Homo sapiens: one gene and its partner. The protein of the gene in region 1 purifies or fractionates together with the protein of each later gene. This does not show direct contact. Each region holds a gene or a part of one and is shown on either strand. Other genes may lie near its edges.

Evidence for each region. The genes of interacting proteins can lie anywhere in the genome.
Region 2: the proteins of ITGAL (region 1) and ESM1 purify together in Homo sapiens (affinity purification with western blotting, with the first as the bait; one study listed by BioGRID). This does not show direct contact.

The regions. Positions count from the first base shown.
Region 1 is NC_000016.10:30,489,698-30,494,508, forward strand, and holds part of ITGAL (integrin alpha-L isoform a precursor), read left to right. Parts: intron 1-4,514; coding exon 4,515-4,666; intron 4,667-4,811.
Region 2 is NC_000005.10:54,982,422-54,988,025, reverse strand, and holds the start of ESM1 (endothelial cell-specific molecule 1 isoform a precursor), read left to right. Parts: upstream 1-2,432; 5' UTR 2,433-2,508; coding exon 2,509-2,809; intron 2,810-5,604. UniProt on the Homo sapiens protein: Involved in angiogenesis; promotes angiogenic sprouting. May have potent implications in lung endothelial cell-leukocyte interactions.

The sequences.
Region 1 (4,811 bases):
GGCTGAGGCAGGTGGATCACCTGAAGTCAAGAGTTCAAGACCAGCATGGCCAACATGGTGAAACCCTGTCTCTACTAAAAATACAAAAGTTAGCCAGGCATGGTGGCGCATGCCTGTAGTCCCAGCTCTTCTGGAGGCTGAGGCAGGAGAAACGTTTGAACCTGAGAGGAGGAGGTTGCAGTGAGTGGAGATCACGCAGCTGCGCACCAGTCTGGGCAAAAGAGCAAGACTCTGTCTCAACAAACAGGGCCGAGCACAGTGGCTGACACCTGTAATCCCAGCACTTTGGGAGGCTGAGGCAGGTGAATCACCTGAGGTCAGGAGTTCGAGACCAGCCTGGCCAACATGGCAAAACCCCATCTCTACTAAAAATACAAAAATTAGTCGGGCATGATGGCGGGTGCCTTTAATTCCAGCTACTCAGGGGGCTGAGGCAGGAGAATCGCTTGAACCCAGGAGGCGGAGGTTGCAGTGAACTGAGGATCATGCCACTGCACTCCAGCCAAGATGACAGAGCGAGACTCCGTCTTAAAAAAAAAAAAAAAAAAAAGGCCTTTTATATGCAAACCAGCCAATTCCGAGCCCATATCCTCAGCCACCTCCTTTGTCTAATCCTTACACAATAAGCCGATAGTTCCTCTGCCCTAAATCAGCTCAGAGCCAGGCATCAGTCAACCAGAGGCCACCGCTATAGCCCAGAGCCAGCCAAAATTATTCAAACTGTGCAATCCTAAACTTGCTTGAACTTGCCAACCTAGCTCGCCACCCTTCCTTGTGGAAACCACAAGAAGAGCTCTGGGCCATGCTCTTCCCTGGCTCCTCCTGCCTCTTCACTAATGTAGTGTTTCCCTCTCTGGCCCTGCATGGCATCCAGTGCCTACTCCCTCTTGGAACTGTGGCTAGTAAACTTCTTTCAATGACAGTGACTCTCTGTATCATCAGTCACACCTATATATTAAATCCCAGGCACATTTTAAAACAACCTGCCTTATTAGTAAGAGGACTGGCCACTCCTTTTTAAGGCTTCCTCCTCTTGAATTGTCCAAGAGCACCTGAGGTCAAGAGTTCAAGACCAGCCTGGCCAACATGGTGAAACCCCGTCTCTACTAAAAACACAAAAAAATTAGCTGGACGTGGTGACACGCACCTGTAGTCCCAGCTACTTGGGAGGCTGAGGCAGGAGAATCACTTGAACCTGGGAGGCGGAAGTTACAGTGAGCCGAGATTGCACTACTGCACTCCAGCCTGGGTGACAGAGAGAGACTTTGTCTCAAAAAAAAAAAAAAAATTAGTTGGGCATGGTTGTGCATGCCTGTGGTCCCAGCTACTTGGGAGGCTGAGATGGGAGGATCACTTGAGCCTGGGAGGTTAAGGTTGCAGTGAAAAAAAAAAAAGAAGAAATGACTCTAAAATTTAATCTCTAGCTGGGTGTGGTGGCTCACACTGTAATCCCAGCACTTTGGGAAGCTGAGGCTGGCAGATCATTTGAGGTCAGGAGTTCGAGACCAGCTTGGCCAACATGGTGAAAGTCCGTCTCTATAAAAATGCAAAAAATTAGCCAGGCATGGTGGCATGCACCTGTAATCCCAGCTACTCGGGAGGCTGAGGTAGGAGAATCTCTTGAACTCTGGAGGTACAGGTTGCAGTGAGCCGAGATCGTACCACTGCAGTCCAGCCTGGGTGACAGAGCAAAACTCTGTCTCAAAAAAAAAGAAAAAAGAAAAAAAGTTTAATCTCTAGTTAGACACCCACCCCACTATACACACACATAAATATATACATATATGTGGATAGATAAATAAACAGAATCCTGAGTGTCTACTATGCTACTTATCCTTCAGATCTCAGTTTAGCTATCACTAGTGTAGCACTAAGCATTTTATATACATGTCTTATTTAACTCTCAAAACACACCCCATGAGATTGGTACTGTTCCTTTTTTTTTTCTTTAGACATAGGGTCTCACTTTGTCACCTAGGCTGGAGTGCAGTGGCACCATCTTGGCTCACTGCTGCCTTGACCTCCTGGCTTTGAGCAATCCCCCTTCCTCAGCCTCCCAAAGTGCTGAGGTTATAGCCGTGAGCCACAATGTCCAGCCTCTTCCCTTTTTGTAGATGAGAAAACTGAGGCACAGAGGCATGAAGCAATTTACTTAACTACTACACAGCTAGGAAGCAGTAGCACTAGGATTTAAACCTTGTCTCATGGAGTTCAAGAATTTGGAGTTCTTAACCCTTGTGCTTCCAGACTCCATACGACAATAGGGAAGCGGTTCCGTCTCTTCACTCTTCCTTCCATGTGCTGTAGGGCCTTGGACAGCTCTGTTTTCTTCACTCACTTTCAACTGCTCTGCACAGAGACCATCAGATGGGGTCAGTGACTCATCTCAGAGGATTCTTGCTGGTGGCTCTTGGCTCTAGCCCAATCTTGGGTCCAATTTCCTGCAGTGTTTCCTCGAACATTCAATAGAGGTTGTCCTGGTATCTTAGAGGAAAGAACCTCATTACAGGAAGTTGAAGATGAAGACAGCCTGACACTGACATGATATCTTTTTTTTCTTTTTTTTTTTTTTTGAGACTGAGTCTCTCTGTCGCCCAGGCTGGAGTGAAGTGGCGCGATCTTAGCTCACTGCAACCTCCACCTCCCAGGTTCAACTGATTCTCTTGCCTCAGCCTCCTGAGTAGCCGGGACTACAGGTGCCCGCCACCACGCCCAGCTAATTTTTTGTATTTTTAGTAGTGATGGGGTTTCACCATGTTGACCAGGCTGGTCTCAAACTCCTGACCTCAGGTGATCCACCCGCCTTGGGCTCCCAGAGTGCTGGGATTACAGGCGTGTGCCACCGCTCCCGGCCAACATGGTATCTTTTTTTTTTTTGAGACGGAGTCTTGCTCTGTCACCCAGGCTGGAGTGCAGAGGCGCTATCTCAGCTCACTGCAAGCTCCGCCTCCTGGGTTCACGCCATTCTCCTGCCTCAGCCTCTCGAGTAGCTGGGACTACAGGTGCCCGCCACCATGCCCAGCTAATTTTTTGTATTTTTAGTAGAGACGGGGTTTCACCGTGGTCTCGATCTCCTGACCTCGTGATCCGCCTGCCTCGGTCTCCCAAACTGCTGGGATTACAGGCGTGAGCCACCGCGCCCGGCAACATGATATCTTTAAGCATGAAAATTTTTCAAGTTTCCTGCTTTATTTTATTTTGTTAGAGACAGGGTCTCACTCTGTCACCCAGGCTAGAGTGTAATGGCACCATCGTAGTTCAAGGCAGCCTTGAACTCCTGGGTTCAAGCAATCCTTTTGCCTCTCAGCCTCTCTAGTACCTGGGATCACAGGTGTGCATCACCACACCTGGCTAGTTTTTGTAATTTTTTGTAGAGACGGGGTCTCACTATGTTTCCCAGGCTGGTCTCAAACTTCTGGCCTAAGTGATCCTCCTACCTCGGCTTCCCAAAATGTTAGGATTACAGGTGTGAGCCACTGCACTTGGCCCAGACATGCTTTATTTTTAATATCCATGCCAACTTTGCATTCTTCTGACTAATATATACCATTTTATTTTATTTTATTTTATTTTATTTTATTTTATTTATTTATTTATTTTGAGACGGAGTCTCGCTCTGTCGCCCGGGCTGGAGTGTAGTAGCGAAATCTCAGCTCGCTTCAAGCTCCCCCTCCCAGGTTCACATTCTCCTGTCTCAGCCTCCCAAGTAGCTGGGACTACAGGCGCCTACCACCACGTCCAGCTAATTTTTTGTATTTTTAGTAGAGACGGCGTTTCACCGTGTTAGCCACGATGGTCTCGATCTCCTGACCTTGTGATCCACCTGCCTCGGCCTCCCAAAGCGCTGGGATTACAGGCGTGAGCCACCGCACCTGGACTCCCATTTTAATTTATTATTTAAGAAAAAAGAGGCCGGGCACAGTGGCTTATGCCTGTAACCCCAGCACTTTGGGAGGCTGAGGTGGGTGGATCACCTGAGGCCAGGAGTTTGAGACCATCCTGGCCAACATGGCAAAACCCTGTTTCTACTAAAAATACAAAAAATTATCTGGGTGTGGTGGCTGGGCGCCTGTAATCCCAGCTATTTGGGAGGTTGAGGCAGGAGAATTGCTTGAACCCGGGAGGCGGAGGTTGCAGTGAGCTGAGATCACGCCATTGCATTCCAGCCTGGGCAAGAGAGCGAGACTCTGTCTCTAAAAAAGAAGAAAGAATGGAGTCTTCCTTACTAATCCTCAGGTAAACTGAGGCTCAGAAGAGGCTCCACGCTCCACTTGTTGTGCATAGCTGCTTTTCCCTGGGTGTGCATGTCACCCACAGTTGAAGACATGCCATCCCCAAGATGGCAGGATTTGTTTGGCTGGGAGCACATGGATGCTTTTCTCAGGAGAAGGTCTTCAGCTGTTTCCATGCATCTCTGCTACTAACCCAATTCCCTGGGGCCCCTGCCCCTCTCCTGCTGGGTGTTCTTCCAGCATCCTGTGTTCCTAACTCCACACCCCACACACTTTCCTCAGGTTACACCGTGACCTGGCTGCCCTCCCGGCAAAAGACTTCGTTGCTGGCCTCGGGAGCCCCTCGATACCAGCACATGGGCCGAGTGCTGCTGTTCCAAGAGCCACAGGGCGGAGGACACTGGAGCCAGGTCCAGACAATCCATGGGACCCAGGTGCGCCCAGTCCGAGGGCATCTGCAGACCAGGGACTGGCGGGACACACATCACACTCCCTTCTGTCCTTTGAATGCTCATCCACTTACCATGTGGCAGCCCCTGTGCTAAACATGATCACATTTATCCCTCATAACACACAGAG
Region 2 (5,604 bases), on another chromosome or scaffold:
TGCACTTACCTGTGCATTGTAGTTTGGTTTACTATTTGGATTTGGTACTCTCAACTTACATTTGTTTAGTTGTCATTTACTGAAGGTATTATCAATTTGGTTTCCCTTTATCTTCCATAGTGGAAGAGTTTCATGTCTTTATGTGCTATTCAGGAGGACGAAATCCACTCCATTCCTTCTGTATTACATCTAGTATAGCTTACCATGTCACCCACCTTGGGCACCTGTTTGGCACCTGTATGTATTTGATTTTACAATCCTTAATCCAGTCTCCAGAGCTTGTTGGTCTCAGGGCTGGAGTCCTGGCTTCACCATTTGCTAACTGTGTGATGATGGACAAGTTACTTACCCTCTCTAGGCCTCAGTTTTCTCATATCTAAGATGGGGATAAGAATAGCACCTAGCTCTTGAGGTTGTTTTGAAAGTTAAATGTGGTAATCTACATAAACTGCTTAGCATGGCATCTGGCACACAGTCAGATCTCTGTAAAGGTTAGATATTATTATTAACCACTATTCCAGTTAACTACTCCTCAGAAAGTGGTGTTCAGTAACAAGGGACATTTTCTAGGGTCAGCCTAAATTGCGACCTAGGCCATTGGAACTATTGGCCATGAAAGCACAATTATGTATTGTAATAGGCAATAGAATATGTGGCTCTGACATTAGACTAACATCCATCCCTTCAATATAGGGACCTTAGGCAAATTAACCTCTTTCTTACTCAGTTTCTTCTTTTAAAAAATAAGCATGATAATAGCAGCCACTTCATAATATTGTGATGAGGTGCAAATGAGTTAATGCATGTAAAGTGTTTAAGCTATTAACTCAACAAATATTACCCATTACTGAAAACATCAGAGTGTGCCACCTGCTAAGTAAGTGCTTCTGGGGAGATAGAGTATTTCAAATTGGATTGTCATGAAAAATTTGGAAAATTTGAAAGCTAAAACTCTTGCTTTCATTTCCTACTGCCTCAATTCTCTGTATTCTGAATTTACTCCCTGTGTCCCCCTAAAATTGCATTTGCAAAAGCCGATCTTCAAGTTACATCCAATGCCCGCTCTGCCTCATCTTCTATGGGAAACAAGAATTTTAGAGGTCAGGTAGCCTAACACCATCAATTCTCAAAAGAGGAAGCTGAGGCCAAGAGAAGTCCTGTGAATTTCTTACAGCTCATTTGTGACAGACCAAGAATTACCCACTTTACTGGGTTGTTATTTACTAAGTGACAGTGAGTCTATATCTCTTTTGACAAGTGAGGTGGGGGCATGGAATTCGGCATGTGGTTGGTGTAAGAACTCCCCTCTCTCCTCTTTAACCTTACTTAATAAGACCCTGGCACAGTTGATATTTTAAGAGGGCTACTCTGTTTTCCCAGAGGGACCTAGGCACGGTAACCCTCTTAGCATGCAGACCTTGTTTCCTGAGGGGTAATGTTTCCCTTCCCTGTGACTTGTTTCTTGGGGGCTGTGTTCTGATTTTCCTGCTGAGCCACTTGTTGCCTTGGGCTGGCTGCCGCGCTTGGCAGTTTTTAGTGAGGGCTCTGATAGATGCCAGGAGGTGAGGGGAAGGGCTCTGGGTGGACTCCGTCATTGGACAAGCAGACTTAGTGATGGATGAGCCTTCCCCTGAGGAAGTTTTGGATCAGAAGTCCAACTGATAAGTTTTTCCAGAATTGAGTAACCCAGAAGCAGTGCCGAAAGGATCTTACCTCTCTTGTGGCTTTTTGTATTGATTTTAAAAGAAATTCTCAGAGGCAGTTCCACATTGTACTGGAAGCACAGCTATATCCACAATAGGCTTAGATATATGTAACATGAATTGCTTTAGAAATAACATTTGAGGAGAGGGGTGAGAGGAAGGAAGAGAGGGTCTTAAAAAATAGCCCTATCAAAATATTTTCTTTCTTCTAAGTATTGAAAAGACACAATATAACCCTTTCTTCTTTCAAATGATCTCATAGCTATTTGTTGAGGGGAAATACCAAATGTTTATTATTTTTTTTGAAGAAGCTTCTTCGGTCCTGATGATTCATGTTGATATCATTTTCCTCCTGACTACAGAGGCTCTGAGACAAAGCTACACCTCAAGTGATATGCCAGGGTCAGAACAATTCCCGTCCTGAAGGAGGGTGTGCAACCTTCTTTATCCCTCCTTCACAGACGTCCTTGAGCCCTTGAGACGGATGTGAGTGAGTTTTTCAGTCCTCATGCAAAACAACCATCTAAACATAACAGATGACATCAGCTTGGGCTTTTCAATTCCTGGATGGCAGCAGCGTGTTAATCCAGCCTTCATCCTGGATTTCATAAACCAAAACAAGAGAGCCTGGCAGGAGGACAGCGCTGCTGCTGGGTTGAGGAAATTGATGACGGGAAAGCATGCGGGCAACCCAGTGTATAAAACTCATAAACGTGTAGGCAGAGGCTCAGCTACCAGTTTGGACGGCTGCTTCCCACCAGCAAAGACCACGACTGGAGAGCCGAGCCGGAGGCAGCTGGGAAACATGAAGAGCGTCTTGCTGCTGACCACGCTCCTCGTGCCTGCACACCTGGTGGCCGCCTGGAGCAATAATTATGCGGTGGACTGCCCTCAACACTGTGACAGCAGTGAGTGCAAAAGCAGCCCGCGCTGCAAGAGGACAGTGCTCGACGACTGTGGCTGCTGCCGAGTGTGCGCTGCAGGGCGGGGAGAAACTTGCTACCGCACAGTCTCAGGCATGGATGGCATGAAGTGTGGCCCGGGGCTGAGGTGTCAGCCTTCTAATGGGGAGGATCCTTTTGGTGAAGAGTTTGGTATCTGCAAAGGTAAAGAGTGACCCCTTACCTCTCCCCTCCCGGGGCATGCTGAGAGCTTTTAGCCAGCTTGGGAGGTGAGGTGGCTTTGCTCCTCAAGAGTAAGAGGGAAAAGGCAGGTGGATTCTTGACAAGGCACCACACAGGTATTGTCATGGGTAGAGACTGAAGGATAGCTCCAAGTAGCAACTGAAACCAGTGTGCAGGAAGGCACAGAAAGAAGTGTGGCATTTTACTCGTTGCCTTAGGAGATCGCAAAAAGAAAGCTGCAATGGAAGATTGTGTTGGCTCCTTTTCTGGAAAACTTTAGAAACTTGACAGGTAATCTGTTAAGGATGGCTTAGGTGCTCTCTCCTCTGCGAGGCAGCGATTACAAAGGTCTGCACTAGATAACCTCTTGGAATGGTTTCTAGCCCCCAGATTTAGTGATTCTTTGATCTTGAAAGGGTCCACAGGATGGAGGGCCACTCTCAAGATCAAATATTTCTGATAAACACAAATGCACTTTATGGAATAGAGTGAGCTTAAGTCATCTAACAAAATAACTCACTCTTCAAAGAGGGTCCCCTGAAGCATAAAACAAACCTCATCTGACTTTATAAAGGTTTTGGTCATCTGGAAAAATAGCAGATGGTGTTAAGACAAGGAAAAATAACAATAGAGAAAAATAAAAACTGGAAGTCTGTAAAGAATGAGGTTGACCACTTGTACACTTAAAGAAAAACTTCGTCGGTTGAAATTTTAGCTAAATAATGTAGTTAAGCATTTGTAGAATTTATTTTAAACATAGTAACTAGTTTAAAATATTTAACATTTTAAAAATGTTTAGAATAAAAAGAATGATGATTTAAAAATACTCTACGTATAGATATCTCATGATCTTATTATGAAGAGCTATTATTAAGAAGCAACACATGCTATAACCCCATCCATCAGTTGTGTAATACCAGGAAGCTTTCAAAATTATAAAAAGGACTGAGAAATTTCTAAATAATTATTATGTTTTATGTATTTAATACATTTTTTATGAATAATATTTATCCAGTATTGTGCTAATCTCATTAATTCTCCTACTTCTTAGACATATAATGTATAAATTAATCATCTTTTAATTTGCAAGACATACAAAATTAAAAAAACAAATTCTTAAAGTATTAGGAGAGTTTTATTTTTTGCTTAGTTTATTTTTGTTTATATACAATAAGAAATAGAATATTGAGAAAATATTTTGTTTGGTGAACACATATGCATGTTTCTTTCAACTGAATAGGATCTGTATATTTTGTAAATTATGGGGCTTATTGACCAAGAAAACAGTACTTCACATAAGGAAATTAGGGAGGAAGTGGTTAACACAATCATACTTATGATATAGCATGTATATGCAGTGGATTGCTTTTTCTCTTGGCATAATATGCCTTTGTACATGTGATTGTAAATGTACATTACATATGGGCAAAGAAACAAGCTGTGTGGCATCTGGAGTCTTTAGCACTGTAGTATTCTACTGAATGATCAAGATACTAAAAAGATCTTTAAGATTGCTTCTTTTGGCTTTCTTCAGGTTGCTGATGAATCTAGTTTTAAGCATTTTTCTCTCTGCTGGAAATAGGAGACTTTGTGAGCCTTAGCAACTCGAGATAGAGATAATACATTTGGCAATCATCTCCCTTCTTCAGCTTTTTAAAAGAACATCCACGTGAAAACTGTAAACTTCAGCTGCGTATCCAAATGTCTTCTAAATATTCAGATGTCTGTGAACATCTTGCCCAGATTAACAATCAGCAGCCAACACATATTTAATGAACACTTACTATCTGCCCAGCACTGTTCAGTACATCAGGGGATACACTAGAAGTATCTCTGGGAATTTGGCTAAAGTTTTAGTTTTCAATATCGCTGCAGGCACAGTCAAATCCTAATCCTGTGTGCTTTTCTGGAACAGGCCTTTGCAGGATCCCTTTTTAAGATCTCTTCTTCCCAGCAAAGAGAACAGTGTTCAAAACCAGGTTCCTCTGTGATCTGAACCATATTGAAAAGAGCACTCATAGATCTCTTTAAAAAAAGATAGCTCATTGATGATCTACTTGGTCAGTTAGTGGAGTATTAGACTGCTAGAGACTCAGATGGCTCACAATTTGTTCTTTACCCACCTGTGATTGTACATTTACAAGGTATTTTCACAACAAGAGAATATTCTATATCTATTCTGCTGGCTTTTAAAGGTTGGTTAGTCTACTGAGATGCTGTTTATCCTAAAAACAGCATTTTAAATAATTTTATGCATTTTAAATAAACGACTTTGTCCTCTTTATTTCAATGTAGGATGTTTTGGCATAAGTGTAAGCACTGGAGGTCTAAAAGCTTCTAGTTCTTGGTAGGTGTACAAACCCTCAGGGTGTATAAGCCCTGAGCTTTCTTGCTCATTTAGCATCTTGCATGTTAGCCTTGCAGAGGATTTTACTAGGGAGCCCTCTTAACTACTGAGGGAGTCAGGCAAGTTGTATGACATGCCGTTTCGACAAATAAGGAACTTGATAAGGGTTGGAGCAGATGGAAGATTGATTGCTTCATGGTGAGCTAGGATGATAGCTCTCTCCCTGGTTAGTTTGAAGCCCTTTCCTATACACTTAAAATAGTAAATTATCTGTGAATACAGTAGATTCAAAGATAGCATCACATTTTAAAAACTCTTTGAGGAGCTGATGCATATATGTCTGTTCAATTTCCCACCTTTGCTGAGCTGTTACAGAGGTCATCTGTGAGAATTTATTGGTATCTAAGCAGAACATCACCAGAATGAAGAC